Homo sapiens: one gene and its partners. The protein of the gene in region 1 purifies or fractionates together with the protein of each later gene. This does not show direct contact. Each region holds a gene or a part of one and is shown in the gene's direction. Other genes may lie near its edges. The genes, in order: SLC31A2, CDS2, AGPAT3, REEP5 and PLSCR1.

What was found.
Region 2: the proteins of SLC31A2 (region 1) and CDS2 purify together in Homo sapiens (affinity purification with mass spectrometry; one large-scale study listed by BioGRID and IntAct). This does not show direct contact.
Region 3: the proteins of SLC31A2 (region 1) and AGPAT3 purify together in Homo sapiens (affinity purification with mass spectrometry; one large-scale study listed by BioGRID and IntAct). This does not show direct contact.
Region 4: the proteins of SLC31A2 (region 1) and REEP5 purify together in Homo sapiens (affinity purification with mass spectrometry; one large-scale study listed by BioGRID and IntAct). This does not show direct contact.
Region 5: the proteins of SLC31A2 (region 1) and PLSCR1 purify together in Homo sapiens (affinity purification with mass spectrometry; one large-scale study listed by BioGRID and IntAct). This does not show direct contact.

The regions. Positions count from the first base shown.
Region 1 is NC_000009.12:113,152,651-113,158,819, forward strand, and holds part of SLC31A2 (protein SLC31A2), read left to right. Parts: intron 1-5,076; coding exon 5,077-5,143; intron 5,144-6,169. UniProt on the Homo sapiens protein: Does not function as a copper(1+) importer in vivo. However, in vitro functions as a low-affinity copper(1+) importer.
Region 2 is NC_000020.11:5,174,019-5,180,187, forward strand, and holds part of CDS2 (phosphatidate cytidylyltransferase 2), read left to right. Parts: intron 1-1,164; coding exon 1,165-1,261; intron 1,262-2,629; coding exon 2,630-2,727; intron 2,728-4,798; coding exon 4,799-4,938; intron 4,939-6,169. UniProt on the Homo sapiens protein: Catalyzes the conversion of phosphatidic acid (PA) to CDP-diacylglycerol (CDP-DAG), an essential intermediate in the synthesis of phosphatidylglycerol, cardiolipin and phosphatidylinositol.
Region 3 is NC_000021.9:43,964,823-43,970,991, forward strand, and holds part of AGPAT3 (1-acyl-sn-glycerol-3-phosphate acyltransferase gamma), read left to right. Parts: intron 1-3,123; coding exon 3,124-3,293; intron 3,294-4,295; coding exon 4,296-4,457; intron 4,458-5,830; coding exon 5,831-5,984; intron 5,985-6,169. UniProt on the Homo sapiens protein: Converts 1-acyl-sn-glycerol-3-phosphate (lysophosphatidic acid or LPA) into 1,2-diacyl-sn-glycerol-3-phosphate (phosphatidic acid or PA) by incorporating an acyl moiety at the sn-2 position of the glycerol backbone.
Region 4 is NC_000005.10:112,896,732-112,902,900, reverse strand, and holds part of REEP5 (receptor expression-enhancing protein 5), read left to right. Parts: intron 1-382; coding exon 383-521; intron 522-4,529; exon of another isoform or gene 4,530-6,169. UniProt on the Homo sapiens protein: Plays an essential role in heart function and development by regulating the organization and function of the sarcoplasmic reticulum in cardiomyocytes.
Region 5 is NC_000003.12:146,526,747-146,532,915, reverse strand, and holds part of PLSCR1 (phospholipid scramblase 1), read left to right. Parts: intron 1-4,084; coding exon 4,085-4,302; intron 4,303-6,169. UniProt on the Homo sapiens protein: Catalyzes calcium-induced ATP-independent rapid bidirectional and non-specific movement of phospholipids (lipid scrambling or lipid flip-flop) between the inner and outer leaflet of the plasma membrane resulting in collapse of the phospholipid asymmetry which leads to phosphatidylserine externalization on the cell surface.

The DNA.
Region 1 (6,169 bases):
ACTTAAATGTCCCCCCTCATAGACAGGTAGCTCCCTAAGGGCCAAAGACTTGTCCCATTCATCTCTGTATCGCCAGGGTCTGCACAGACCTAGCACAACAAAAAGAAATCTTTCAAATTACTCTTACTGTTCTGTGGGTGTTCAGGTCTATGGCAAAACATGTCTGGGCTGTTTTGGGCTCCTAAGATAACTGGCCCAGGCCCAAGGATGATAGAAGGAAACCAGTTATGGCAACTCCCTGACTGATTAATTAGCCACTAGGGACATTCCATTCATACCATCTGCTTTACCAAATGGACTCAGAGAAGGGGTGATGGGTGTCACCCCTACCTCTACCTGGCAGAGATGGTGCTAGAGGCTTCTGCTGAGGATGAGGCCATCTCCGGTGTAAATGGAGTTTCACAGTATTGTTTGTACCTGTTTGGTTTTGTATATCAATCTTGCGTAAACATTTTGCTGTGTCAAAATGTTTTTTTTTTTTTTGAAAGCCTAACAGGAGAGATCTCTGAGTAGTAAGACTCAAAATGATTTTTTACTTTCTTTTCGGTACTGTGTCAGCTTTTTACATTGAGCTAGTGCCATTGGGGGTGGGGGGTAAAAGCTATTCTTATTTTTAAACTCTTCAACATTTTTTAAAGTCTTCAACATGATCTTTATCATGTTGTGATGTGACCGCCTAGATTTCCATTTTGAAGCTCTCATATAATTTACTTGACCAGTCCCTACTGGTTGACAGGAGACCATCATGGTTCCTATGATTTCTCAAAGTGTGACCCCCAACAAACACCTGTCCTAGAAACACCTGTCCCAGAAACACCCAGTACACTAAGGTTTGAGAACCAGTACAGGCTTTCCAGAAAACTCTCTGGCTCTGGGTACCTGATTGCCGAGTGACCATGGGGAGATAAGTGGGCTTTTATGTACCTTCCTTGTTAAAGAGGTTAATAATAGTAGGCACCTGCGGAGATGTCACAGGGAGTGACACATAATAAATGGAAGGTGAACGTGGTACAGGCACATGCAGTCCCTCAGAAGACACAGAGCTGTGTGGCTGTTCTGTCCAATCAGATGCTTTCACATTTCTTTCTCTGTCCTGCAGCTCCACGGTCTCCAGTGAGCCCAGTCCCTGGGTAGGCGCAGGCAGGGGTTGGTGACACAAGTCAGACCCCTTTTGGCACTGAAAGGCATGTTAGCTGAGTGTAGGGAGTAGAACAGCCAGGTTAGTCCCAGGTCTCTACCAAACCCCAGGCTGCAGCGTCCAAATCTGAGAGATGCATAGATGTGGTGCCCCATCCAACCCGGAAACAGAGGCACACTCACTGTTATTGTTGTTGTTTTTGAGACAGAGTCTTACTCTATTACTCAGGCTGGAGTGCAGTGGCATGATCTTGGCTCACTGCAACCTCCACCTCCCGGGCTCAAGTGATCCTCCCACCTCAGCACCTCCCAAGTAGCTGGGACTACAGGCACATGCCACCACACCCAACTAATTTTTGTATTTTTTGTAGAGACAGGGTTTTGCCATGTTGCCCAGGCTAGCACTTTTTTCTTTTACAAGGTTTCAGGAAGAGTAGATAGAGTTCAAGATGGGAGCCTGTGAAAGTGAGGCCAAACCAAGGGAAAGGGTTCCTAGAGTCCTGTCCTCATCTTACAGACGAGGAGACTGGGTCCACAGGGGGCTTTCTGCGTGTCAGCAGCTCAAGGCCACGCAGCTGGTTCCTGGCAGAGCTGGGAGGGAGATCCAGGCAGTGCAGCTTTAGAGACCGTGCCCCTAACCACTAGCCTTGCTGCCTCTGTTCAAACTGCAACAAAGTGAACTGAGCCTCAGAATCTCCTGAAGGGGGCTGGTTAAAATCTATGTCTTCCCTGTCTCCTGTGGCTCTGACCCTGGACTCTGATTTAGGGGCCTGAGGAGGCCCAGGAATCTGTACTTTTAATAAGGCCCTGGAGTCTAAGCAGCTGCTGCTGTCCCTCTACACTAAGCCGCTTGCCAGTGTGGAGCTCATGATTGGCCTGTGGTTTCCCAGTGATTCACCCGGGACTGACTCTGCCTCTGTGGATCCGGCTATAACAGCATCGTCATCCACACCTGTGATCCGCTCCAGTGTCCTCCCTCCCACCCTATCCTCTTTGCCTTTTCATCCTGTTGTCCGCTGTTGTCCCTGGGCTCTGGTCTTACTGTCCCATCCCCAGACTGGTCCTTGTTTGTTTCCTTTATTTAAGGTGCACTCTTCATCTTTCTCAGGAAATATGGGCCAGCTATTGGCTGAACATCCTTCGGGGGCTAAGCATGACTATCCTAATTGCACAGAGGCTTTTTCTCATACATTCCTTCCTCTCCCCAATTTCTTCCCATATTTTGTTCCAAAGTGGCCATATCAGTTTCTTCTGCTGTTTGCATATCTTCCTGAAATGTTAAAACAACCGAACGACAGCACAGCCCTCATCTCTGTCTAGTATTGCACAAGAAAGTGGGCTGTTCTCTGTGTTGTAGCATCTGTTTTCCTCTTGCCAAATGAGGGCCTGGTAAGAAGACCCAGGATCCAGTCCTGATGCTGCCACCAACTCACAGTGTGACCCTGGGCATGTCACAGCTGCCCCTTGGACTTCCAGTGCTGCCCTGAGAAGCTGCATTGAGAGCAGTTAGGAGCACAGAATCTGAAACCAGCCCACCCAGGCAAAATTCTAGCTAGCAACTTGGCAAGTTACTTAAACTCTGTCTGCCTTAGTAGTCTCATCTATGAAATGGAGCTAAGAATAATAATTCCCCTCTTGAAATTGAGTGAGTTAAGACATATAACATTTTTAGAAGAGTGCCTGGCACAGAATAATCAGTGTCATTTCCCTCCCAGCATGAAAAAAGAGGGTTGCTCTAAATTAGCACTTCCTAGAGGATAGTCTATGAGATTCTTTCCCACAGGGCACTCAGCAAGAGAAAAAGGGGAGGAGAGAGTTCTGGGTACAGGCTTCTGGCAGTGCAGAAAGCTATTAAACCTTATTTTGTCTAATTCCAGTCTCTCTCAAACTCCCTTGACCATAGAATCCATTTTTCCCAGTACCTCCTAGCATCCTGTACTTCTCCCATGGAACACTTCTGAGAAACACCCCTCCAGCTTTGACATGTATGGGAAAAAAAGGCACTGGGGTTATTGAGCCCTTACTGTGTGTCACTTTGTGTGGATGGCTTTGCAGAGTTTTCCCCCAGCTCCCCTCGGAGGAAACTGAGGCCAGAGAGAGGCCCTGGTTAACAAATGTGTTTTGTTCCAAATCCTGGACTCAGACTACTATTCTTTACTATCTCCTTTGGTCCTAACTGTTGAGAGGGGGAGGATTGGAGACGACTAGAACATGCAAGGCCTGTGGTTTAGGGCTGTCGTCTGCAAGCAGAAGTTTGTGGCTCTGGTTTCCAGGAGGCTACAGGACACCCACATGGCACAGCTTCCTGACAAAATGGCAGCTAATCAAATCTGCCTACCTTTCCACCCCCACACTGACGTTTGCCTCCACCGGAACTCCTTTTCTGTAAGAACTGATGGCCCCCACAGCCTTCACAAGTACCCACAGTCTCACTCCATATCTTCCTCCCTTGAACAGAAACTGAGAGTAACCCGCTTATAAGGAGGTCCGGCAAATCCTTTTCCCTCTTCATACTCATTTTCCTCACCTGGAAATGAGAGGGGGTGGAGAGGGACTCAAGTTGGGCCAGATCAGCATTTTTCAAACTGAGTTTCATCAGAGCTCATATTTCTCTCCCCTCTCCACCCTGAGCCCCGTGTTTTACATAATGGAATTAGAAGAAAGATTTTAATTGGCTGGTGTTCCCTGGTGAAGAAAGCTGAAAGCCATGGGACTAAAAACTCTGAGGATACCTCTAGTGCTGAGATTCAAGGATTCTAATATTTGGCCATTGTCTTAGAAGGCAAAGGCTTCCACTAGCTGATTACAACTCAGCCAGGATCTCCTTAGCTGGGTAACACTGACAGTGTTTGCAGAACTGCTTGTGCTAGCTGAGGGCTTACCTGGGGACCAGAGGGGGCCTTCACTTCCCTGAGAGGGTGAACTAACTGATAGATCTGTTGGGCCCTCATCTTTCCAAACAGTCATTAAGCCTGGTGTGGGCGTCTGAACTCACCATCCAGCTCCCACTGTACCCTCCTTTCTTGGAGATTGGGAGGAAGCACCGTGTCCTGGAATGTCCAGGGCTTTGGAATCCAGCTAGACTCAGGTTTGAATCCCAGCTCTGCCAACTTACTAGCTTTGTGACCACCAGTAAATTACTTCTCTAAGTCTAGTTTCCCTAACTTTCCTTCCTGTAAAATGGACCTAATTGTCCCTGTCACACAGAGGACTGTTGTGACAATGAAATGAGATGATGTAGAAAAAGCCCTTGATGCCACCCTGAACACAAGGTGGAGCAAGCACCCTCTGAAAAGGCATCTGACAGGCACTGCATGGTCACTGCTTTTACCTGCAGTCTTTCCTGTAAGGCTGTGAACTCACCAAGGTCAGAGACATTAACCTACTTCCATAATGCTTGGCACACAAACTGGGCTCAGCAAATGTATAGTGAATGAGTAGGCAGATGTGGAGTACAGTGAAGACAGCTGCCTCTGGGCCCCTCCACGATAAACACTGTGGGATCTGTCTAGACTGAACAGGACAAAGAGGACTCCAGGCTTCCATCACACGGGAGCCTGTTCTGGAGCTGCAGCAGAATGGCTAGGGTCCCGGGGGGGTAAGAAGAGGCAGTTGCACTTGGAAGGCATGGAGGGGACATCCCCACATAGTCTGAGGACACTGTCACATCCCGAGCCAGTTGGTCCAGTGAGGATGGACACTCCCACACCTCTATTCTCATATGGAGCATGGCCAGCTCAATTATAGCTCTGCTGCTGACCCTCTTGGGCAAGTCTCAGCTCTTTATGGCCTCAGTTGGCCCTGATGACTTCTGATGGCCCTTCCAGCACTTCCAGTGACCCCATTTTTCTGGGCTCCCAGAGGAGGTGCTGGAGAGCATTAAGGACCGTAACTTCCACTGCCCTGTGCCCCTATGATGCAGATTCCTTTCTCTTTCAGATGCATTTCATCTTCTCAGATACAGCGGTGCTTCTGTTTGATTTCTGGAGTGTCCACAGTCCTGCTGGTAAGAATTGGGGACCTCAGACTTGTAGCTTGGAAAGCCTTGTAGTACTAGGCAAGGGAGAATCTGGGTTCTCTTGATTCTCTGTGGGCATTTAAGTGAGGCTGATTCCTCTGGCATAAACACTGAGCAGGAACTTCACAGTTATAATTCCATTTGTAACCACTCCCCTTCAGATCGCAAAGGGCTCCATTATCTTACTGATCCTCACAAAGGCCGAGAGGCAGGGAGGCAGCTTTTCCCTCTGTTACAGGGCAAGAAACTAAAGCCCAGAGACAGGAAGAGAGACTCGTGCAGGGTCACACAGTAAGTACGCATCAGAGCCACTACTAGATCAAGGCCTCCGGGTGTCACCTGGCACCTCCCTTATCCAGGGCTCATTGTTCTGCACCAGTTCAGAAGCCCACAGCAGCTGCTGGAGATGAGACACCAATTTGAAAGGAAAGAATATTCCTTTGATTTGAAAAGGCAGAGTTTGTCACTAATTCATGAAGAAGTTATTTTTCAACTTAAATAACTGCATCTTAAAAAGAGACTGGAAACAGCCCAAATGCCCATTATTGCGGGTGCAGATTAAATAAATTATGGTCAGCCCTACAATGGGTTACTATTTCTTGTTATCTATTGCTGAATAAACAGTGGCTTAAAACAAGTCATTTTATCATTCTCTCTCAAGGTTCTGTGAGTTGACTGGACCCAGGTGAGTGGTCCTTACTGAAGGTCTCTCATGCAGTATAGTCAAACAGTGGCTGGAAGTAGGGTCATTTGGAAGAGTTCCTCACTCTCATGCCAAGTGGCTGATACTGGTTGTTAGCTAGGACCTCAGCTGGAGTTGTTGGCTGAACACCTACATGTGGCATCTCCTATGGCCTGGGCTTCCTCGTGGCAGAGTGGCTAGATTCCAAGATCGAGTGTCGCAAGAGAACAAGGTAGAAGTACGTGGGATTTTCAAGACCTAGCCTTGGAAATCAGATAAAATTACTTCTACCTTTATTGGCTGAAGCAGTCACGAAGGTCTTCCTAGGCTAA
Region 2 (6,169 bases), on another chromosome or scaffold:
AGGCTGCTTTTCACTGAGGAGTCCACGTTTCCAGTTCAGAGTTTAGTTTCTCTCACATCCTTTGTGAACAGTTCCTTAAATTCTCCAGGAAGAACTGGGAAACATCTTAACCTAGGTGAATCTAGTGTTAAAACTTTTGGCCCTTGAGAACCTGGTTCTTTTAACACAGCTATGTGAGTAGATCAAAAACACATTATAAGACCCCAAAGCATTATCTCAGTGTTCCTATGTGTGCCTCCAACTGTCCCCTTGGGAGTCTGAATTGTGCAGTGGTTAAGGGCGTGGACTTTGCAGCCAGACCCTTGGATTCAGATCCCAGCTTTACTGTTTGCCAGCTGTTTGACCTGTGCCTCCATTTCCTCATCTGTAAAAGCGAAGTGTGTTGAGGATTGAAGGAGTTAATATATGTAAAGTCCTCATAAAATTACCTTACTCAGGCCGGGTATGGTGGCTCACGCCTGTAATTCCAGCACTTTGGGAGGCCGAGGCGGGTGGATCAGGAGGTCAGGAGATCGAGACCATGGTGAAACCCCGTCTCTACTAAAAATACAAAAAAATTAGCTGGGTGTGGTGGCAGGCGCCTGTAGTCCCAGCTACTCGGGAGGCTGAGGCAAGAGAATGGCATGAACCTGGGCGGAGCTTGCAGTGAGCTGAGATTGTGCCACTGCACTCCAACCTGGGCTACAGAGGAAACTCTGTCTCAAAAAAAAAAAAAAAATTATGCATATTTATGGTAGCTGTTATTATCATTGCATAATGTTACTATTATTCCCATAATTATTCAGGGCAGTGCAGTGTAGGATCCTGCTGCTGGAAAAAAATATTTTTTTCTTCAGATAGTCAGCTGTAGAAACCATCCAAGTGGATACAGAAGCAGAGGGCACTACATTTCCCTTGGTTTTTTTGTTTGTTTGTGTTTTGCCTGATACCTTCTTTAAGATATAAGCTAGGTTTATTTTTTGCCAAGTTTGGTTGTGACTTAGGCATTGGTACTAGTGGTCCTGCTCCTGCCAGCATGTGGCTGGTGCCTCCGTCACGGTGAATCTGGAAAGGACTGAGCTCAGGGCCCTCATCTCAGGAAGATCCATATCCCTTGAGTTTGTGCATTGGTTTTTTTCTGGGCTCCTAACTGGTGTTTTCTCCTTCCCCTGCTCTCTGACCTAGATGGAAGAACTGGTGGGTGAGAGGCATCCTGACTTTGGCCATGATTGCATTTTTCTTCATCATCATTTACCTGGGACCAATGGTTTTGATGATAATCGTAAGTGCCATTTCACACTATTTTAGTTTTCCCTTCAGTTTTTGCTGCAGGCCCGGTTGTCTTAAGTGCGAGGTGTTGGGTTGGTTGTGGGAATTGACGGGGGTCCAGGCTTCTCAGAAAACCTCTGCCATAGAACATCTGTGACTTCCCACTTCTCAGTAGCCACCTGGAGGGTCATTGGTGTAGGCTGGTTGTTTATGGTTGAAGATGTCTCAGTGTCTTTTCTTTTAAAAAACTGACTTTATTGCCTGTGATCCCAGCACTTTGTGAGGCTGAGGTGGGCGGATCACGAGGTCAGGAGTTTGAGACCAGCCTGACCAACATGGTGAAACCCTGTCTCTACTAAAAATACAAAAATTAGCCACGCGTGGTGGCACGCGCCTGTAATCCCAGCTACTCAGGGGGCTGAGGCAGGAGAATCCCTTGAACCTGGGAGGCAGAGGTTGCAGTGAGCCGAGATCATGCCACTGCACTCCAGCCTGGGTGACAGAGTGAGACTCCATCTCAAAACAAACAAACAAACAAACAAAACTGACTTTATTATTCCAACTCTGTAAACTTTTACCCTGGGCATGTCTCTATATGACTCCTGGTTTCGTTTCCTGTTTTCCTGGGGCCTCCCTTCTGGGCTTAGAGCTTTTGTTAAGGAAATCCCAGTCCACAGAGCTGCTCTGTCTGTCTTCCCACTGTCCTGGACAGGGTCAGGTGACCATCAGCTGCATGTGAGCAAAGCATTTGACTTTGAATACTTGAGACTTTTCAAGTATTCAGAGTCAAAAGGAGAATGGATTGGTTGAATCCTGGGAGGTTCTAGAATAAAAAGTTAAAAAGGAGGTTTTAGAATAAAGTTAATTGAGGGTCAGGCATGGCGGCTCACGCCTATAATCCCAGCACTTTGAGAGGCCAAGGCGGGAGGATCACTTGAGCCCAGGAGTTCGAGACCAGCCTGGGAAAGAAGGTGAAACCTCGTCTCTACTTAAAAAAAAAATCCTTTTGGCTGGGTGCGGTGGCTCACGCCTGTAATCCTAGCACTTTTGGAGGCTGAGGCAGGTGGATTGCTTGAGCCCAGGAGTTCAAGACCAGCCTGGGCAACACGGTGAAACCCTGTCTTAAAAAAAAAAAAGTTAATTGAAACATCAGGGTGTGTATTTTATTGTGAGTGGAAAATTGGATCTACTCCCTGTGACATAGAGGGCTGCATTGCTCTGTGGGATGGTATGAGAGAGGAAGAAGGAGGGAAGCAGAACCACTGGAGGCCCGATATTTTTCTTAAGTATAATGGGTTTTCTGGAAGGCTCATGACCTGTTGGTTTCCATTTCCAAAAATCATAAGAATTGGGGTGTCAGTGAATGTTTTGTGTCCCGCAGGTGATGTGCGTTCAGATTAAGTGTTTCCATGAGATAATCACTATTGGCTACAACGTCTACCACTCATATGATCTGCCCTGGTTCAGGACGCTCAGCTGGTAAGCTCTCCGGCCCCACAGAGGCTTTTAGAATTTGGATGATGTGCTTTGTGGCAGGTACTTACAGTGACGGTGGGTATTTCTATCACTTGCTATAGAGATAAATGCTGGAGAGGCAGTTATCATGTTAGGTCATACAAAGTTTCATGAAGAAAATGGTATTTGAGCAATAAGTGAAGAAATGGGTAAGAGAATGTTAGGAGAATGTTAAGAGAAAGTTAAGAGAAAAAGGCAGGAGAAAAGAGGTGATTGCCACAGACTCGCACAGTGCCTTTGAGACCTGAGTATTTCATAGGCCAGACTGTGTGGTTGGCCTTGCAGGAGTCTTATAGTTACTTGAAGTCTGGAATCTTCCTGAGAAGAAACCAGATGGGCTGCATTCTGTGACTGTGTTTGCCTCGCTATTTGGATTCCTTAAACTCTGCATGATGATCCCGTTTTTCTAGATCAGTATATTTTTCATGCCGTCATATCTCAGCATCCCACTAGAGTTGTCTGGAAGTTGTTAGGTTCTGCTGCCGGCTTTGCTTGTTATCCTTGGAACTTGGTTTCCTTATCTCTAAGACAGATGGTTGAGACTTACTGGTTTCCAGACTGTGGTGTTTGAGCCCTACTTCATCAGAGGTGTTTTGAGTGCCAGAGTGGGCAGGAGTGAGGCTGAATGCATGGGATCTGGGCTCCGCTGGGAAAGTTGGCTTTCTCCGTTTCCTGGGAAAGGATTCAGCTTTCTTAAAGCAAAAAGAAAAACCTGTAACACATGTCTGAGACCCCTTTCTGATCTGAAACTCTGCTTTATTGGCCGTAGTATTCTCAGGTGGTGACTTTTGAGCAGAGCACTGCACCATGCTGAGAGGACCTGGGGCAAATGTGGACCTTCTCACCCCACTGTGCAGGGATACAGGGGTTGAAGCCATGACTTAGCCGGCTGGAGAGCAGTGGTTTTTGCCCCAGCAACCTGGTCACTGTCAAGGAAGCCGATGTGCTCAGATGTAGGCTGGGCACCCCCTTCCTGAGGTGTTTCCTGTCACCCAACAGACAGGCTGCCTCCCAGCCTCCAGATGGAATTGGGATTGCCACCTGGCTTAAGATGCAGGTCCCTTTTGTGGCTGTTCTTTAGCTGGAAAGCAGTGTTTTGCATTTTGTTAACATACTCAGGAGGCCTGACTCCTGGCTGTGGTCACTTTACAAAGAAAGTTTTTTCCATGTAACAGAAAAGAAACCCAATATGGGAGTTTTTGTACTTCATAATTTAAAAAAAAGAATGGGAAAGAAAAGCTCTCCACTTTCTTCTCTATCTCAGGATCCTTGCTGGGGGTTTGCAGTGATGGCTGCATGGTGCCATACTCAGCAGTACTGTGGAGGCTGCAAGGGATGGCTTCTCTTCTCATGAACGCCAGTTGAGGAGAGAGAATACACAAGTGAAGAGTTAACGCTAATGGAAGGTCTGTTTGTCAGAGCCAGGCTTCAGAGAGGCAGATGCATCATTAATTGCTTAGTCAGATAATCACATATTACTTGCTATAGAAATAAATGCAGGGGAGGCAGATGTCATGTTAGGTCATGCAAAGTTTTATGAATAAAATGGCATTTGAGCAAGGAGTGAAGAAATGGAGAAGCAAAGAGAATGTCAGGAGCAGGAAAAAGGCAGGAGAACAGCAGACAGGTGTGGCAAAGCCGGAAGAAACCATTTTGATAGGAGTGAAGGAGTTCCTGTTGGGAAGAGTGGAAACGAGACTGGGGAAGCAGGATGAGGCGTGTTTTTGAAGGTCATATGGTTCAAGGATCCCTCAGTTAGGTATGGGAATGCTACAAAAGGGGCAAAAACGGAGTCTCAAGTTTGGGAGAAATGGAGAGTGAATGAAAGCTGCTGTCTGTTTCTAGATAAATTTCTCACCTACGGTGTCACCAGAGAGCAGGAAACCATGGTCTGCCTGTTGCTCTGTGAGCTGTCCCGGGGGACTCAAGGGTGGGGGGTATTCTGCTGCCCTCTGTCCCTTCCTCTGGGATGTCTGACTGCCTTGCTGTGAAGGCAAGGGTGCTCCCCACGGCAATGACCTGTCTTCATTTACAGGTACTTTCTCCTGTGTGTAAACTATTTCTTCTATGGTGAGACAGTGACGGATTACTTCTTCACCCTGGTCCAGAGAGAAGAGCCTTTGCGGATTCTCAGTAAATACCACCGGTTCATTTCCTTTACTCTCTATCTAATAGGTATGCATTAAGCAGTTCACCATTTCTTGTGTCTGTATTGTTTTTGTATGTCTGTCAGGTAGGAATTGGGGAATTTCTTGGTTAGTATACAGTTTTGTGACATTAACTGTGACCATGCAGGGGAGCAGAGCTGATGCTCTATGTTAAGCTGTAGCAGCTGTTACCTTTTTTTTTTTTTTTTTTGAGCCAGGGTCTCACTCTGTCACCCAGGCCAGAGTGCAGTGGCACCATCTCGGCTGACTGCAACCTCCACCTCCCAAGTTGAAGCGATCCTCCCACCTCAGGTCCCGAAGTAGCTGGGACTACAGGTGCCTGCTACCATGCCCAGCTAATTTTTGTATTTTTAGTAGAGACCGAGTTTCGCCATGTTGGCCAGGCTGGTTCCGAACTCCCGAGTTTAACTTATCCGCCTGCCTTGGCCTCCCAAAGTGCTGGGATTACAGGTGTGAGCCACCACGCCCGGCCTTGTAGGAGCTCTTTTAAGAGAAGCAGAGTGTAGGGGCAGGACTGTGGCCTGTGCCACCTGCCCCTGTGTTTCAGCCACCATTGAGGAACAGCACAGCATGGTCCTGTCCTGACTCTCCTGTTGGCAAAGATTCTGCAGTGGGACCGAAACAAAAATCATCTAGGAACTTACCATCTTTAGGGGAGTCATTTTAGGAGACCGCCTTGGGTGACATTGTAGCATGGTGGAAATTTTACTGGATTTGGGCGTAGACTCTGCAACCTCAGGGGGAGCTAGGAACATAATATTTCTGAGTCTCAGCTCTTTTGTAATCTAGAGCTAAAACTGCAGGGTTACTGTGAGGATTAAATCAAATACATTAAAACTTCACAAACATTAAAGCGTTATATTAGTATACATTCAGGTAAGGCCACGTACTAATTCTAATAATGCTGATGGTTTTTCATAGCTACCTTCAAAGCTAGTTTGAGGTGCACGAAAAATTTGTTCTGACCTCAATGTCAATCTGACCTATTTTTGATCAGCTTGATAGCAATACTTCTGTGAATGACACCTGACTATTAAAATATAAAATCTGCAAAGGGGTCTGCTGCCATTGAGGATATTCAGAGAGTATGCTGCAGACCCCGAAAGCAGCCTTCCACAGTGGGAGGTAAGGGGTCTGGAAAAGCGACATGCTTATTTCTGGGCAGAACTGCTTTTGAGGATCTCCGCATGTTTATGGATAAAGGTTCCTTTCCTTCCTGGAGAAGGGGTCTGCGGACA
Region 3 (6,169 bases), on another chromosome or scaffold:
TATTTCCATGAATATGTTTGTGGGAGCCTTTCTGCAGTCAGAGGTATGTGGAAGCCTTTGCCAGTTCAGGGGCGCATGGTGAGAGCAGACCTCACAGTGGGTTTGTTTATGTTTGTTTGTTTTTGAGACAGGGTCTTGCTCTGTCGCCCAGGCTGGAGTGCAGTGGTGTGATCTTGGCTCACTGCAATCTCTGCCTCCTGGGCTCAAGCAGTCCTCCTACCTCAGCCTCCTTGAGTAGCTGAGACCACAGGTGTGCACCATCATGCCCAGCTAATTTTTGTATTTTTTGTAGAGACAGGGTTTTGCCATGTTGCCCAGACTGGTCTCCAACTCCTAGGCTCATGTGATCCTCCTGCCTCAGCCTGCTGGGCTGCTGGGATTACAGGCTGAGCCACCGCACCAGCCACAGTGTTTTCTGATGACCCTGAACCACGGTTTTATTTTCAATTCTTCATTCCTGTTCTCATTCCTTAATGCTGGGTGCCTTCTTGCTGCCCATTTTGAACTCACTGCCAGTGTGTCTCTGCTGTCATCTGATGTGCAGAGCTATAGGTGCTGCGGCGAAGGGTGCAGGTTTGGAGCCGTTTAAACAACCTGGCCCAGCCTCCTCACTCCCTGCTGACCTTGGTCAAGGCTTCAGTCTCTAAACCTCAGCTTTCTCATCTGCAGAGCACAGACAAAACCACCTGCCTTTGAGCTGTCTTATAAAGCCTAAATCAATGCGCACAGCAGGTACACAGCAATGCTTGATAAATTGTTACTATTATTGGGTGAATTTTAGGTTTTTTTTGTTGTTGTTGTTGTTTTGAGACAGAGTCTCTCTGTTGTCCTGGCTGGAGCACAGCAGTGCGATCTTGGCTCACTGCAACCTCCATCTTCTGAGGTTCAAGTGATTCTCGTGCCCCAGCCTCCCAAGTAGCTGGGATTACAGGTGCCTGCCACCACATCCAGCTAATTTTTTTTATTTTTAAGTAGAGATGGGCTTTTGCCATGCTTCCCCAGCTGGTCTTGAACTCCTGGCCTCAAGTGATCCTCCTGTCTCGGCCTCCCAAAGTGCTGGGATTACAGGCTTGAGCCACCGCACCCGTCCAGAATTTTAGATTTTTTTAAATCCGTGGTTGAAAAATAGGCTATGGCTGGCTTACTCATTGTGCTTTAGGGAAGCATGTATTTGAGTGAAGGAAATGATAAAAGGAATTTCATATCGGGCCCAGGCGCCGCCCACCCTGCAAGACAGTTTACAGATGCCTGCCCTGACAGCTGTCTGCAGTTAGCCAGCGTCAGCCGAGGGGTCCTGAGATCCGCTGAAGGCTGCCTTTGCATGCCGACAGCAAGGGAAAAGTGCCACATGTCCCTGGGCTTGCCACAGGTGACCTTTGGATGGGACCATTCTCCAGACAGCGCAGCTCGTCTTTCCAGAACACTCATGGGGAGTGTGCCTGTGTCTGGCTGGCTGTGTGGGCTCCCATTCAGTTCATTCCCCTTCTCCAGCCTTTAGGCATGACCCTAAAGGCAGAGGTCTCAAGCACTTGCCAGGGGTGAGCCAGCGGTGGGGGCGCCCCTGCCAGGGCAGGCCTGCTGTGGGGGCTTGGTCAGCGAGTCTTCTCCCCACACGCAGGATTTCCTCCCGTCCACTGCCTCTGCCCACAGGTGACCTTTCTCTTTTAAAGGAATTGGGGTCCCTTGGTACCCCCACAAACCCTGAGTTCCCTCTCTCCTTTCTGCGTCCTTTCTGCTCGCCTGCATGTGCCTGCAGCATCATGACCGCTGGGAAGACACTTCCCTGCACCTGCACGCTGTCTGCAGGCGTCTCTGGCCATCCTGGGCTGAGCTGCGTGATCTCGGGTAGCGGCCCTTTGTTCACCCGTGCAGGATGTCTTTGGAATTGGTCTCTAGTGTCCTTTATAAATAACTGGTATAAAAGAACCCCGGGCAATGGCCTTGCAGAAAGCCCACACTTCAGAGCTGGGCTGGTGTCCAGCGCGAGAAGCCTGAGGCCGTCCTGAGCTGGAAGCCGCGTCCTGGTTCTGTGGGGCCATCCTTCCCGGACAACTGGCTGGGGGGCACAAGACTCTGGTGGCCGACAAGAGGCCCACCTGCTTGGCCTCCCTCTTGTCCTTCCCCACATGGCCCTCTGAACAGGACTAACTCCCTCTGAGGCCCACGTGTGACAAAGATGCACCGTTCTCACCACGGAACTCTTCAGCCCTGCAGTTCTCCCGAAGGTGAATGAGGGCATCCCAGAGTCCCCATCAGGAGACAGACGATGCTGCGTTCCCAGCAGCCCCAGAGCCCTCCCAGGCGTGCAGGTCTCCTGCCGGCAAACAGATCTCCCGGCACGAGCCCCTCCACACTTCTGGGAAGAGTGTCTTCAGCTCACCAGGCCGGAGCCAGGGGAAGAGACCAAGGGAGGAGGCTCCAAGAACCCCTGGGTGGGGGGGACAAGCACTCAAAGCCAGGACTGGCACCCCTCACATGCCAGCACCCACGGGGTCAGGTGTGCCCTGCTGTCTCTGGGGACCCCGCAGGCCTCTGGCCACCTGCCCAGCAGCAAGCCCCGTCGAGCACCCCCAGCCGGCCTTCCTGGGGGCGGGCTAGGCCTCACATGGCTTTTTTTTAAATATGGAAAACCAGTGTAACCCCAAAGCAAGTTTTAGGAGAAAATATAATTCCTATTACTCTGTCGTCTATAATTCCATTCTGCTCTTAACTCTTCATTTTTTCCCACTGTCTGTTCTGCAGACATACGATGGTTGTTTTCTGCTTCCTAATCATCTAGTGACATTTTTCATCTTCTGCACCTCTCACGGGGCGTGGCTGTGCGGTACTCGGCCACACCAAGGTGCACGTGAGAAGCGTAATTGGGCGTAAAGATCAGCGTCTCCATGCAGAGTGGCGGTTCTCTCCCTTTCTGCTGCTACCTTCCATCTGTCTCCTCCCAACTGTTGCTTAGAGAAAGTTATTGTAATTTCATAAAACGTACTCAGTGTAAGTCATCAAAACTCATGTTTAGCAGAGACTTCCTCTCTGGACAAAAATACTGTAGGTGTCTCCTGTGGGCGCTCCCTGACCATCCCAGGAGGAGGGGTCCTACCAGTGCCAACGCCCTCCCCCTGTCCGCAGAACTGGTCATGCTGCTGGAGTGGTGGTCCTGCACGGAGTGTACACTGTTCACGGACCAGGCCACGGTAGAGCGCTTTGGGAAGGAGCACGCAGTCATCATCCTCAACCACAACTTCGAGATCGACTTCCTCTGTGGGTGGACCATGTGTGAGCGCTTCGGAGTGCTGGGGGTGAGCGGGGACCTGGGGAGGGCCACGGGTGAGCAGGAGGGTCCCGGGGAGGGCCGGGGGTGAGCGGGGACCCAGGGAGGGCCGGGGTGAGCAGGGGGTCCCTGCAGGGCTGGGGGTGGGGTGGTGACTGGGAGTGAGCTGGGCGGGGTCCCAGGAGGGCTGGGGATGAGCAGGGTGGGGTGGTCCTGGGGAGGGCTGGGGGTGAGTGGGGGGTCCCAGGGAGAGGCTAGGGTGAGCACCTTCCAGGGGAGGTGCTGGGAGTGAGCGGCAAGGGTCCTGGGGAGGATCTGGGGGAGTAGGCGGGTGCTGGGGTGAGCAAGAGGGCCCTGGGTGGGGGAGGTACTGGGTGGAGCAGTGGGGGTCCCAGCAGAGGAGCTGGGAGAGCCTTGGGTTTCCCAGGGAAAGGGCTAGGGGAGCAGGGGACTCCCTGAGGAGGTGCCGGGGAGGCCCCTGGGGTCCGAGTCCCTGGGTGTTCCTCCTGGGGCGTCTCTTTGAGCTCGGCAGTGGTGCCTGGCTGGTTGAGGGGCCCTGGCCCGCAGGGCCTCAGCTGTCCCCGAGCTGTGCCCTCCTTTCTCATCATGGCCTTTGCCTTTGAGATGACCCCACCTGCGTCCCTGCAGAACCACTTCCGTTAGCTAAGCTGCCTCAGATGAAACCTAAACTACTCCCCGATGCTGGCAGAAGAATTTCATTGCAGTCAAAGCCCCTGTGTGAGGCAGCACCCCCAGGCCACCCCCCGGAAGCCTGGCAGCCTCTGCATCCGGCTCATCCACCTTCCCTGAGGGCCCTCCCAGCCAAGCCTGAGCCTCAGTTTCCTCATTTCTGGGGCGACCCACTCACCCTCAGAAGCCGGGTCCTGCTTCACAGCAGACCCCCTGAGCCACAAAGCCGTGACTCCTAGAGCGACACCACACAGGAGCTGGGTGCAGCGGGAGCCTGGCCAAGCCCCTGGCCTCTGTCCGACGCTGAAGTGCCAGGTGCCCCTCCTTCTCCTCCCTCCAGAGCTCCAAGGTCCTCGCTAAGAAGGAGCTGCTCTACGTGCCCCTCATCGGCTGGACGTGGTACTTTCTGGAGATTGTGTTCTGCAAGCGGAAGTGGGAGGAGGACCGGGACACCGTGGTCGAAGGGCTGAGGCGCCTGTCGGACTACCCCGAGTACATGTGGGTGAGTGCGCGGAGCAGCCCGATACCCTGCATGCCTGGAGGAGGCCACGCCAACTCCTGATGCACGGCTGCCCACATCCCAGGCTGGGAAACCCCATGAGAGCCTCTGCACATGGGGTGCTGTTTCCATGGGGCCATGACTCCCCCATCTGAGCTGCAGGCGTGGAGGCTTCTCTTGGGCCACCTGCTTGCTACTCGCCGCAATCCCAGCTCTGACCAGGCCATCCTAAGGGGATCTGGCCGGGGGAGGGGGCAGAGCAGGGTGCCCCCAGTGAGCCCTGGCTCTGCCCGCCCTGCTCAGTGTGCATCCCCATTCTTTTTCTGTCCCTTCTTCCTGGTCTGTCTTGGAAAATGGGCTGCCTGTGCTGTTAGCATTTCTGTTTTTTTGTTTTCTTGTTCGTTTTGTTGTGTGTGTTTTTGTGTGTGTGTGTGTGTTTGAAACGGAGTCTCGCTCTGTCGCCCAGGCTGGAGTGCAGTGGTGCAATCTCGGGTCACTGCAACCACCACCTCCCAGATTTAAGCGATTCTCCTGCTTCAGGCTCCCAAGTAGCTGACATTACAGGTGCGTGCCACCACACCTGGCTAATTTTTTGTATTTTTAGTAGAGATGGGGTTTCACCATGTTGGCCAGGCTGGTCTCAAACTCCTGACCTCAGGTGATCCGCCCACCTTGACCTCCCAAAGTGCTGGGATTATAGGCATGAGCCAGCTTGCCAGCCTGCTGTTAGCATTTCTTTTTTTTTGTTTTGAGACAGAGCCTTAGTCTGTCACCCAGGCTAGAGTGCAGTGGCATGATCTCAGCTCACTGCAACCTCTGCCTCCCGGGTTCCAGCAGTTCTCCTCTCTCAGCCTCCAAGTTGCTGGGATTACAGGCACTCACCACCACGACTGGCTAATTTTTGTATTTTCAGTAGAGACGGGGTTTCACCATGTTGGCCAGGCTGGTCTTGAACTCCTGACCTCATGATCCACCCGCCTCGGCCTCCTAAAGTGCTGGGATTACAGGGGTGAGCCACCACGCCCGGCCTGCTGTTAACATTTCTAACTCATGCTGTGGCAAGTCGATGAAACCCTCTCTGTTTTCACACTGCTCAGAGGCTGCTGCCCCAACACACCTTCATGTTTCACTTCTTTCTGGAAAGTTCTTTCTGGAGAGCTCTCCTGTGTGAATGAACGTGTGTGACTGGAGTGCAGACTGTGGCCCTAGAATAAAAGAACCTTTCAGTCATAACCCATGCTGCTCGCTAAAGCGGTTCCAAGATTTCCACAAATTCAGCCACAACCTTTGCTGCCTGTCAGAGAGGCAGGCCTGGCCTGGACATGCACCCACCCCAGCTGCTCTGTGGAGTGACCCTGTCTCCGTGTTGATCCTAGTTTCTCCTGTACTGCGAGGGGACGCGCTTCACGGAGACCAAGCACCGCGTTAGCATGGAGGTGGCGGCTGCTAAGGGGCTTCCTGTCCTCAAGTACCACCTGCTGCCGCGGACCAAGGGCTTCACCACCGCAGTCAAGTGCCTCCGGGGGACAGGTAGGCCCCAGACTGCCCGAGCCGGGGCCACCGCTATGCTCACGGAAAATAGTGATTTCTTTAAAAAAAAAAAAAATGAGTGCATTCCATGTGAAACACAGAAGAACAGAAGTGCAAAAGGAATCAAGTGAGGGGGTCGGCGCCGCAAGGTTCCCGCGTCAGGTTTTGAGGTGATAAAATGCTAA
Region 4 (6,169 bases), on another chromosome or scaffold:
CCTGGTTATCACGAGAGAATTCTTCCTGATATATCCCTCGTGGCAGGACCCAGCTTGGGAGTGGAAATTGCTCTAGCTCCCAGTCACTAGTGGTATATTCTAGGACTTGTGGGGAGGCTTTGGCAGGGTGGAGATCCAGGGCAGTAACAGCTGGTGCTGGTTTCTCTGGTGACCAGGAGACTAGAAACAAGTGGTTATAATGGCTTGTCCCGATATCCACATTGCTTCCAGTCTTTAAGCTGTACTCTTGCATCTAGTGACACAGTGCCTACATGTGCCTAAGTTTCTCAGTGGTATCAGAGGACAGGTTATGAAAGTGTATTTGAAAATCTTTCATTGATATCTTACCAAATGATATACTTTCTTTTGTACTGCCTTTCAGAATTAAAGCTATAGAGAGTCCCAACAAAGAAGATGATACCCAGTGGCTGACCTACTGGGTAGTGTATGGTGTGTTCAGCATTGCTGAATTCTTCTCTGATATCTTCCTGTCATGGTTCCCCTTCTACTACATGCTGAAGGTATGTTGGTCTTGCTACCACTAAAACTCCATCTCAGTACCTGTATAGAAGAAGTAGGAATAAATGCTTGAATGTTGTGCATCTGTGGCTCTGTCTCAGATTATAAACAAGAAGACAGGCCTGGGCAACAGAGCGAGACTCTGTCTCAAAAAAAACAAAAACAAAAAAATGCTCAAGCAAGCCACTTGCCTCAGCCTCCCGAGTAGCTGGGACCATAGGCGCACACCACTGCACCTGGCTACTCTTTTAAACAATTTTATCTAAAGAAATTTAGATATAGGAAATTAAATATAGGAAGCTCCATCACTCCAACCACCATCATAAATGGTAGTATCTTGAGTTTTAGTTCTGGTTAATTATGGATATATAATTCTTTTTGTCTTTGGTCTTAGCCTTTTTTTTTTTTTTTCTTTTTTTGAGATGGAGTCTTGCTCCGTCGCCCAGGCTAGAGTGCAGTGGCATGATCTTGGCTCACTGCAACCTCCACCCCCCAGGTTCAAGCAATTCTCCTGCCTCAGCCTCCTGAGTAGCAGGGATTACAGGCGCCCACCACCATGCTTGGCTAATTTTTGTATTTTTAGTAGAGACAGGGTTGGTTTTTTTAAAAATCTATTTATTTGTACTTCTTCTGGGAGATTTCTCAATCTGACCTCCTTTTTTTTTTTTCTGAGATGGACTCTTGGTCTGTTGCCCAGGCTAGAGTGCCATGGTACAATCTCCGCTCACTGCAACCTCCGCATCCTGGGTTCAAGTGATTGTCCTGCCTCAGCCTCCCGAGTAGCTGGGATTACAGGCATGTGCCACCACGCCTGGTCAATTTTTGTATTTTTTTTGGTAGAGAAAGAGTTTCACCATGTTGGCCAGGGTGCTCTCGAACTCCTGACCTTAAGCAATCCACCCACCTCGGCCTCCCAAAGTGCTGGGATTACAGGCGTGAGCCACCGTGCCCGGACTCAATCTGACCATCTAATTTTCAACTGTACTCCATGATTACATTATAACCATTCTGTTATTCCTGCTATATACCGTGTTCTTCATTTCAACTATTATATTGTTCACACCTAATGTTTTTGCTTGGCTCTCTTCTTCTTGTCCTTGTTTCATATTGCTAATATTTTCTCATTTCTTTTAGTATGGTTACCGCTCCCCAGTTTAAAATTCTTGGTCAGCAGTTCTAATATTGTTGCTCCTGACCAAAACTTGTAGTTGATTGTGTTGTTTTTCTTTTGAAATGTACTCTTGGCCAGGCGTGGTGGCTCATGCCTGCAATTCTAGCACTTTGGGAGGCCGAGGCGGGCAGATGGCCTGAGCTCAGGAGTTCGAGACCAGCCTGGGCAACACGGTGAAACCCTGTCTCTACTAAAATACAAACGAAATTAGCTGGGTGTGGCAGAGTGCACCTGTAGTCCCAGCTACTCAGGAGGTGAGGCAGGAGAACTGCTTGAATCTGGGATGCAGAGGTTGCAGTGAACCGAGATCACACTACTGCACTCCAGCCTAGGCAACAGAGCCAGACTCCATCTCTAAAAAAAAAAAAAGAAATATATTCTTAAAATATCTTTTTATTTTAGCCTACAAACTGCTTTTCATCCATGAGTATCAGCTATCCCATCAGGCACTGGAATGGAGGGGGCCCCAGTCCATGCTAGTACTAGTAAGTTCTGGGTAGGGGGTGGATGAGTCCTAGGAGTGGGGGGCCCCAGGCACACAGGAACCATAGTTAACCACTCTTCACCTACAGAAGAGCTCCTCAGGTCAAAGCTTCACTGTACAGTCCCCTTCTACCCCAGCAAAGCAGCATCAAAAGGAAGTGATCCTGGGTTATAGTTCACAGCTCTAGGGGTTGGAGCAGGAGGGGTAGGGAAGTAACTGCCTTTAGTTAGTGTCCACCTGTTTTCCTGAGTGATTTGCAAAGACAGGACTTTTATGCCAAAACCTCTGTTTTAGAAAAAAGTAGAGGACAATATTTTTTAACTTTGAGGTATAGAAGCAAGACAAAATACAAAAGTTTCAAAGAAAAAGATTTGATAAATTCAACTAAAAATTTCTAAAAATTAAATTTCTATATGACAGTGGGCAGCATAAACAAAGTTAAAATAATGACAGACTAGGAAGATAGATTTACAACATTTACACCAAATAAGGAATATCCAGAATACATAACAATTTCCATAAGTAAAAAGAAAAAGAAAATGGGAAAAGGTTCTAAGTTAAGTATTTCACGGAAGAGAAAAAATATGAATGGCTAGTAAACAGCTCACCAGTGATGTGGGAAGTGTGAGTTAAAATAGTGAAATCCCATATTTTGTTCATTAAACTGGCAGATATTTTAAAGATTGAAAATATCTGGTATTGGTGAATGTATAGGGAAATGGACATGTAATGGTACAGGCTGAACATCTGAAATTGGAAATCCTAAATGCTTTAAAACCCCAAACTTTTTGAGTGCCCACATAATGATCAAAGGAAATGCTCATTGGAGCATTTAGATTTTAGAGTTTCTGATTTGGTATGCTCAGTTGGTATAATGTACATATTCCAAAATCTGAATAAATGTGAAACCCGAAACACTTTTAGTCCCAAGCATTTCACATAAGGGATACTTAACAGCCTAGTGGTATAAACTTGAATAACCTTTTTAAGGGACCTTTTAACCATTTCTTGTTGAATTGAAAAATGATACTCTTAACAATTCTAAGGAAATAGTCACTGTGCATTAAAGAGCTGCACAAAGATATTCATGGCAGCATTTTTTGTTGTCAACTGTATATAATATGAACTGCATAATGTAAACATTATAAACAGAAATGTCCATCAGCAGGTAAATGGTTCATTCAATTAATAGTATATCCATACAGTTAAATGGAATGAAATAGATCCATATGTACAGACCCAGAAATTTTTGCATAATTTAGTAATTATGAAAAGTTATACAGGACAGTTGTGCTAGCTTTTGCCTGTAATCCCAGCATACTCGGAGGCCAAGGCAGAAGGACTGCTTGAGGCCAGGAGTTTGACACCATCCTGGGCAACATGGTGAGACCCTGTCTCCACACACACAAATTTAAAAATTAACCAGGCTCCCAGATCACAGCATGTTGACCAAAAAAAAAAAAACCGAAAACCAAAAAACAAATGCCAGGCATGGTGGTGCATGCCTGTGGTCCCATCTGCTCAGGAGGCTGAGGTGGGAGGATGGTTTGAGCCCAGGAGTTCAAGGCTACAATAAGCAATGATCACCCAACTGCACTCTAGCCTGGGTGACAGAGTGAGACCCTGTCTCGAAAAAGAAAAAAAGTAATAGAACATTAAATACAGTATCACACCATTTATGGTTAAAAAAGAAAAAAGACAAGACACTATATGAAGTGAGTGTCTTTTAAAGTTTAAAAAATTAAATGAAAACATGCTCAGTATAGATTCTTTTATATTTTTGAATGACTTCACCACAGAATGCCTTGTAAGGCAATTAAGAATTTTCCTTTCAAAACTGATGGAAGAAAATAAAAATTGGTCTGTGGAAAGAGTTGATTTCAAAGATTGGATTTTTTTGTTTTTATTATTCAAAGTCATTTAACATTTATAAAAATATTCTTACAATCTTTAATTTGGACATGACATAATTTAAACTTCAGATAATTTTAAAGCCCTTAATAAGATCCATCTAATCGTAGGGACCTCACAGTAGTCTTTAGTGGAAAGAAATTGGCTTTTGCTTTGGGCCCACTTGCTTGTGGCAGTGAACACTATCTTGTCAGCAGAACTACTTGCAGTAGTTCTGACCTCAGACTTCCAAATGTGAGCAAGCTTGACTTCTAGCCTACTCCTAATCACCTCTGCTAATGGAGTTCACAGAGAGGTAGAGAGAAGATCCAAAATAAATGGTAGTCACTGAATCATTTATATTTGGTTTTGAAGTTCATTTAAAATATTGCTTTGTAGCAGACTTTCTTCCCTAATGGTAAAATGAATGTGCATCCATTAGTAGTCTCCAGCTGCATGGCATCATAGTGTTCATGAAAGTGAATTTATTGCATACATTCCAAATAGATAACATACTTGAAAGGATTAAACATTCATGATGCTGTCAATCAAAATACTTTCTTCCTACATTAGTGGCATACTCTGAATGACCTAGTGAACAGACTGAGAAGAGGCCTCTGAATTGCAGAGTCTCGTCTGTAGGAGAAGGTTCAGGAGAGTATTGAATTTTAGGGACTAGAATCCATCTTACCTATGCTGTTGCAATCGCATGCTGACTGGAAGTGTGGGAAAGAGACTTACAAGTAAGGACATGGGTTTGTTTTGTTTTTTGTTTTTTGGGACAGAGTGTTGCTCTGTCACCCAGGCTGGAGTGCAGTGGTGCCATCTTGGCTCACTGCAACCACTGCCTCTCCAGTTCCAGCGATTCTCCTGCCACAGCCTCCCAAGTAGCTGGGATTACAGGCACGCACCACCACACCCAGCTAATTTTTGTATTTTTAGTAGAGATGGGGTTTCGCCGTGTTTGCCAGGCTGGTCTCAAACTCCTGACCTCAAGTGATCTGCCCGCCTCGGCCTCTCAAAATGCTGGGATTACAGGTGTGAGCCACTGCTCCCAGCCCGAGGACATGTTTAATATTTTATTTTTTGCAGAGTTAATATTGTTGGCTTTATTTTCATTTTTCTAAAGCAGCTGATAAGATTGGAGGAAAATAAAAGGAGCCAATGGCTTGGCATCAAAGCTTAGTTGAGAAGATAATATATGATGTATTTAGGTAGAAATTGGATCATGCATATTCTGAGCTTTGCTCTGACATCTGGCCTTGAGCAAGAGGGTTTAAAAATAAATTTAAAAGCTTTTTTTCTTGATTATGAAATTTACATATGCTCATTCCTTTATTCAGCAGATTTATTTAGAACCTCCATGTGCCAGATTCTGTTCTACATCTGGGAGATACTTTGGCGAATAAAACAAAGTCCTTGTTGTCCTACTGTTTACATTTGTGTGTGTGTGTGTGTGTGTGTGTGTGTGTGTGTGTGTGTGTGATGGGATGTGTTTTATGTAGGGAGGAAAATAACATTTGTAATCCTACATCTTAGAGTAGTCTTCCTATTTTTTAAAATGTGCAAATATATTGGTCTGTGTATATAAATAAAAACAGAACTCTGTGTGTATGTGTATATATATATGTATGTATTGCTGTCTTAACATATGTGTGGCTTAGATCACATATGATATATAATTCTGTGTCTTGCTTTTTTCAATTAACACAGTATTCTGAGTATTTTCTCATGTTATTCAGTATTTTTTGACATAGCTATCTAATGTTATTGATAATTTACCTACTTCCCAATTGAAAGACATTGAGGACATTTGTCATGCGATTATACATAATGCTGCAATTAATATCTTTGTATCCTCTGTTTACCTTCATTTAAATCATTTTCTAGATTTACTTTACTTTTTTTGAGACGGAGTCTTGCTCTGTCGCCCAGGCTGGAGTGCAGTGGCGTGACCTCTGCTCACTGTAACCTCTTTCCCAGGTTCAAGTGATTCTCCTGTCTCAGCCTCCCGAGTAGCTGGGACTACAGGTGCACAACCACGCCCGGCTAATTTTTGTATTTTTAGTAGAGACGGGGTTTCACCATGTTGGCCAGGCTGGTCT
Region 5 (6,169 bases), on another chromosome or scaffold:
GATTCCACCCTGTATTTCTAAGAAAAGTAATTGAGTCATTTGACTACATACATAATTGAGTACATTTTTTCTTTTCAACCAATGCCTGAAAGAATTCAGAGATTTTCATTTAGGCAAATGCAGTTATCAAAACTACTAGAACTTTAAAAATAGCAAAGTCCATGGCATGTCCAGATTTACAAGCAGACAGGCTACCCACATCTTGAAAGAGCATCCTGAGGATTTAGGACCAAAGGGAATGTGGTTTGGATAGAAGGATGTACCCACTGTGTTTTCTTCTCTGAGTAAACAAATGTGCTTAGGAGCTGAATGTCATGTTTAATTGCCTAGCAAGAAACCTCCCTGCGGGTCCCGGATCTCATCCAGATGTTTGCAACTGAAAGAATATGAGCTAGATAAGCTCAGACTCTCAAGTGGTGGCTCATGGCAACCTTGTCTGCACTGAAGTATCATCACCCAGAAGCACTTAAAAATAGTAGTGCAAAGGCACTATTCCAGAAAAATTAAATCATAGCTTCCAGTGGTGGGACTCAAGGAATAGTAATCTTTTAACACCCCAAGTGATTCTAAGGTGAAGCCAGGGTTGAGAACATCTGCTCTAAATTCTTATAGGGTTGGTGTTTGAAAAATCATTAGTAAGTCTATAATATTCATCCAAGGCACTTAAGAGAATGATTTAATCCACCCTATCACTAATTAAAAGTAGATATACATAAATAATACAGTTCAGATATAATCAGACTTGAGAGTTTGTTTATATATATAGATATATATGGCTCTACAGCTTGATTTTGTTTCTCAAGTCCAAGATTACATATAGCACAAGTCTTAAGATAACGATGCTAAGAGTAAGGATAATTTAAAATTGAGATCTTACCATGCTTTAGTCATTGTTTTAAATGTGGAGTTAATGTGGACTAACACTTTTAATTCTTAGAATACTCTTATGAGGTAAATACTGTCAGTTATCCCCATTATGTATGTGGGAAAGCTGAGGCATAGGAAGTTTGTATCAGGCTTCAAGTTCTGCCTACTTTAAAAAAAAAATTCGTATAGGTAAATGTGCTGGTAAACCAGGTTCTGCCTTCTGTACTAATAGTTATGTGGTAGTTTAAACAAGTTGCAGTACCTCAAAGCCTCAGAGTTCCTATCTATAAATAAGGGTGATATTTTCAATGTAGGTTGCTTTGTAGAGTAAATGAGAGTATATGTAAAACACTGAGCACAATGCTTGCAAATTATAAATGACAAGTATTTGCTAACATATTTAAAATATTTTAAATCAATTAGTCTTTACATAAATGATACTAGTATTCAAATTTCAGGTAATTCTTTATGCTTAATTCATTGATTTGAGGAGTAATCCATCATACTTTCAGAGTCTGGGGAAAATTATGATGATGTTAAAAATGTAAGAAATTAACTCACATCTCCATATCCCCACTGGTCTGCCTATGGTCTGGTTTCTGTGCTGACCCCAGTGATCTTTAAAAATGTAAATCTGCTCATATTACAGAGAGTGTAGAGCCCCTATTTTATTAGTGGCCTATTACTTTTAGGATAAAGGCTAACACTAAACTCAGGATGGCCTTTTCCATGCTCTCTCTTTAACTTCCTCTTGAGCCTGGCTTGCTGTTATTCAGCTAGACTGGCTATTTTTCAGATTTTTAAAGGCCTATGTTAGTTACTGTCCCAGGACGTTGCTCTGAAATGTTCTTTCTGTGACTCTGGCCTCCTGAACTCCTGTGCATCCTTCAGATCTCAGCATAAAGGTGACCCCTCAAGGCAGCTGTTCCTGCTCCTTCCCTTTTTCTCTTCCCATCTCAATAGCGACCTTTGGCATCTCTAGTCATAAAACCGTGGTCTCTTACTTGAAAGCATTTATCTCCAATTCTAATGAATCAATTAATTACACTGGTATTATAGCTCCCTAGAATAAGTGGGGATATAAAGTTGTCTCTCTCATTAAACAATGATGGGCAGGGATTGCATCTGTGTTTTCCATTGTAAATTCTAATGCTTTTCCACTCCTGAAAATTTTGTAAGATATAGATAAGACCATGGAACTCATTCTTCTGCTTAAATTCCTCCAGTACTTGCCAATCATAATTGGAACCAAATCCAGACTCCTTACTAAGGCCTCCTTTGATGAACAGCTTCCTGTTGCTTTGCTAACAGCCTTTCCTAGTCGTCTTCTTTCTTATGACATTCCTCTCTCTTTTACGCCTGTCAAATTCATTACAAAGTCAGAGGTATTCTATTTGCCTTTCTTTCCTCCTGAAGCATTTATCACTAATCTTCATATAAAGCTTTTCTCTTCTCATCTTTTAGACCTTGATATAAATTATATTTACCCAAAGTAACTGCCTCATACCCTGCCCTCGCTCGCATACATTCTCTCCATCACATCCATATGAATTTTTTTTGTTTTAAATGTGTTTTCTTTCTCCCAGAAGTTGACTGTAAGCTCTCTGACAGCAGGCTGCCTCCTTGAGAATTGTATCCTCATATTCTACAACACAGCCAGTCACATTATGATCATTTGTAAATATTCATTCATCATAAAGGAATAAATTATAAAAGCTATATTTATGATGCATTATTGTGAGGTTTATTCTGTTTTTCTAAGCCTTATTTTTGAAGGGCAAATGAATTTTATCATAAATGATCCATTTAAAAGAATTTGTAAATTTCCTATTCTAAGTATTACATTTTGCATAGGCTTTAATGTTAAAATATTGAGAAACACAGTCCTTTGAAATTGTATTCCACTGCTATGGAATTGCTACACTGTGGACCATACAAACAGGTATATAAATCTTCATTGTAATCACACATTCGCAGAGAATATGAAGTACATTTACTGTTATTAAATTTCTGCCTCTTACAATTTTTTGCCATCCTTGTTTCTCAAATTATATTTTCCAGAGACCAAAGGATGTTAAATTGTGAAATTTAAATTTCTAACCTAAATATTATAATAGAATTTTATTTTAATGAAGAAGGACTTAGGAAAGCAATACATTATGGATTAAAACATAAGGCAAAGGATTAACCCAAGCAGGCATCTGGAATGTACTAAAAGAAATGACGTGTACTAAACGAATGGGCGCGGTGGCTCACGCCTGTAATCCCAGCACTTTGGGAAGCTGAGGTGGGCAGATCACGAGGTCAGGAGATCGAGACCATCCTGGCTAACACACTGAAACCCCGTCTCTACTAAAAAATACAAAAAATTAGCTGGGCGTGGTGGTGGGCGCCTGTAGTTCCAGCTACTTAGGAGGCTGAGGCAGGAGAATGGTGTGAACCCAGGAGGTGGAGCTTGCAGTGAGCAGAGATGATGCCACCGCACTCCAGCCTGGGCGACAGAGCAAGACTCTGTCTCAAAAAAAAAAAAAATGGAAAGAAAGAAATGACGTGCTTTCACCTTCAACAGTGGCACTATAATATTTTGGGCTGGACAATTCTTCATTTTTAGGGAGCTGTTCTGGCTCTTTTAAGATGTGTAGCAGCAGCCCTGGCCTCTACCCACCAGATGCAGTATTATCTTCCCCTCCAGTTGTGACCAAAAAAAGTCTGCAGATCTTGTCAAATATCCCTGGCAGAGAGGGGGCAAAACTACCCCCAGTTCTATACATATATTATAAGGCATTTGCTAGAATTTCAGAATTATCATTTTTCACAAGATACTTTGGCCCTAGAAATGCTGACTCAAAGCCATTATTTTGGGCCTTCTACCAATGACGTGTTTGTTTCCCTTGAAGGCTTGCCAGAATCTTTATGTAGGTGACTCTAGATCATGGTTATTTATTTTCATTTTCTCAGATATTAAAGCATATTTTCCTTCTGAGTTTTGAATGGTAAGGGTAAGGCTATTCACCGCATACTATCATCCAAATAGAAGTGGATGTGCAACCACAGATATTTCATTGAAAAATCTCAGAAAGAGAAAAGCGTATTAAACATCACAGATACAGATGTCTACGCTGAAATGTCAACTTATAGATAGATGGCATAACCCTAAAAAGGTTGACAATTCCATTTTTGGTGCAGTTACAAATCATTTCACTTGTTTGTATTTCAGGACCTCCAGGATATAGTGGCTACCCTGGGCCCCAGGTCAGCTACCCACCCCCACCAGCCGGCCATTCAGGTCCTGGCCCAGCTGGCTTTCCTGTCCCAAATCAGCCAGTGTATAATCAGCCAGTATATAATCAGCCAGTTGGAGCTGCAGGGGTACCATGGATGCCAGCGCCACAGCCTCCATTAAACTGTCCACCTGGATTAGAATATTTAAGTCAGGTAATTTCAAAGACACAAAATACTCATAAAAAACAGAACTGTGCTTCCAGCTTGCTTAACCAGATTAGCAAATGAATAATTCACCAAAGTCTGAAATAGCAAAACTGTATTTTCTGCTAACAGATTACTCTAATTCTTCTAGGTCTGGTTCAATTTTAAAGCAAAATACAAATGCCTTAGAAAATTGTATTTTCTGTTATCTTAAATACAATCTATGATAATGGCCAATAGCAAACATTTAATTAGCACTGTTTCCTGCCTTTGTTGTATGCCTGATACATGTATTAACTCATTTAATCCTTATTGAAAGTCTGTGATGTATAGGTGCTACATTTTTCAAAAGAAGAAACTGAGGTCCAGAGAGGTTATATAGCTCACTCTGGGGTGAGAACCTAAAGAGTCAAGACTGTTTTTTTAATCCCGAAACTTTGGTACTGAGCGAAGTGCTCTTTAGTCTCAATACTGAATAATTGCCTTATAATTTGGAAGAAAATTTAAATAAAGTTTATTGTTGAGTTTCAATAAGTGGCCCCAAACAAGGGGTTAATATTTTATGTATAATATGACTCACCTTTTTATTGTAACTAATAAAACTGCATTTTTATGATGCTGCTTTTGTTCTTTGGAAGACCTAATTTTATAAATGCCATTAATAAAGGAGTAAAAAGTCCTGGATTTTGTTGCACTAAATTATAATTAATCTCAGCAATAAGAGGTTTAACATTTAATTGGTGTTAGAAATCAGGTAGGTCAAATAGAAACAAGAAACTCTGTGTGTCCAGTCTATACACATACAAATATTCTTGTGATATTCAACCAGTTTTCATTTCATAAATCATTTCTTTCTTGCACTCTCTTTAGTAACTTAATTTCCCACAATGTGCTTAAGTGGCATAATCATAGGAATTTTTGGTCATTATTATATTATGCAAGAAATACATAGAAATAGATATTTTAAAAATCAGAGTCTCATAAAATACATAAAGGATGTTATCACATATGACAAAGGTTGATATTAAGTATGCTTAATACAAATCTGAAACTTGTAAAAAAAAATCTCTTTGATGGCTAAAAAAGTTACCAATATTTCTTCAGCCTATTCTAGAAGGAAGATTGTTTTCTACCTTTTGAATTGTTTTTGACACATAATAATTGTGCATATTTATGGAGTACAGTCTGGCATTTTAATGCACATGTACTACGTGTAATGAAAAATAAGGATAATTAGCATATCTGTCACTTTTAATATTTATCATTTCTTAGTGTTGAGAACATTCCAAATCCTCTCTTCTAGCTATTTGAAAATATACAATAAATTATTGTTAATTATAGTCAGCCTACATAGCTATAGAACACTAGAATTTATTCCTCCTATCTAGCTGTAATTTTGTATTCATTAACCAACTTCTCTTTATACCTCTCCTCCCTACCCTTCACAGTTTCTAGTAACCACTATTCTAGTATCTACTTTTTTTTTTAGATGGAGTCTCATCCTGTCACCCAGGCTGGAGTGCAATGGCACGATCTCGGCTCACTGCAACCTCCGCCTCCCGGGTTCAAGCTATTCTCTTGCCTCAGCCTCCCAAGTAGCTGGGCTACAGGCTCCTGCCACCACACCCAGCTCATTTTTGTATTTTTAGTAGAGACGGTTTCACCATACTGGCCAGGCTGGTCTTGAACTCCTGAACTTGTGATCCGCCTGCCTTGGCCTCCCAAAATGCTGGGATTACAGTCGTGAACCACTGCGCCTGGCCTCTACTCTCTACTTCTAAGAAATCAATTTTTTTAAGCTTCCATGTATGAGTGAGAACATTCAGTATTTTTCTTTCTGTGCCTGGCTTATTTCACTTAACATAATGTCCCTTAG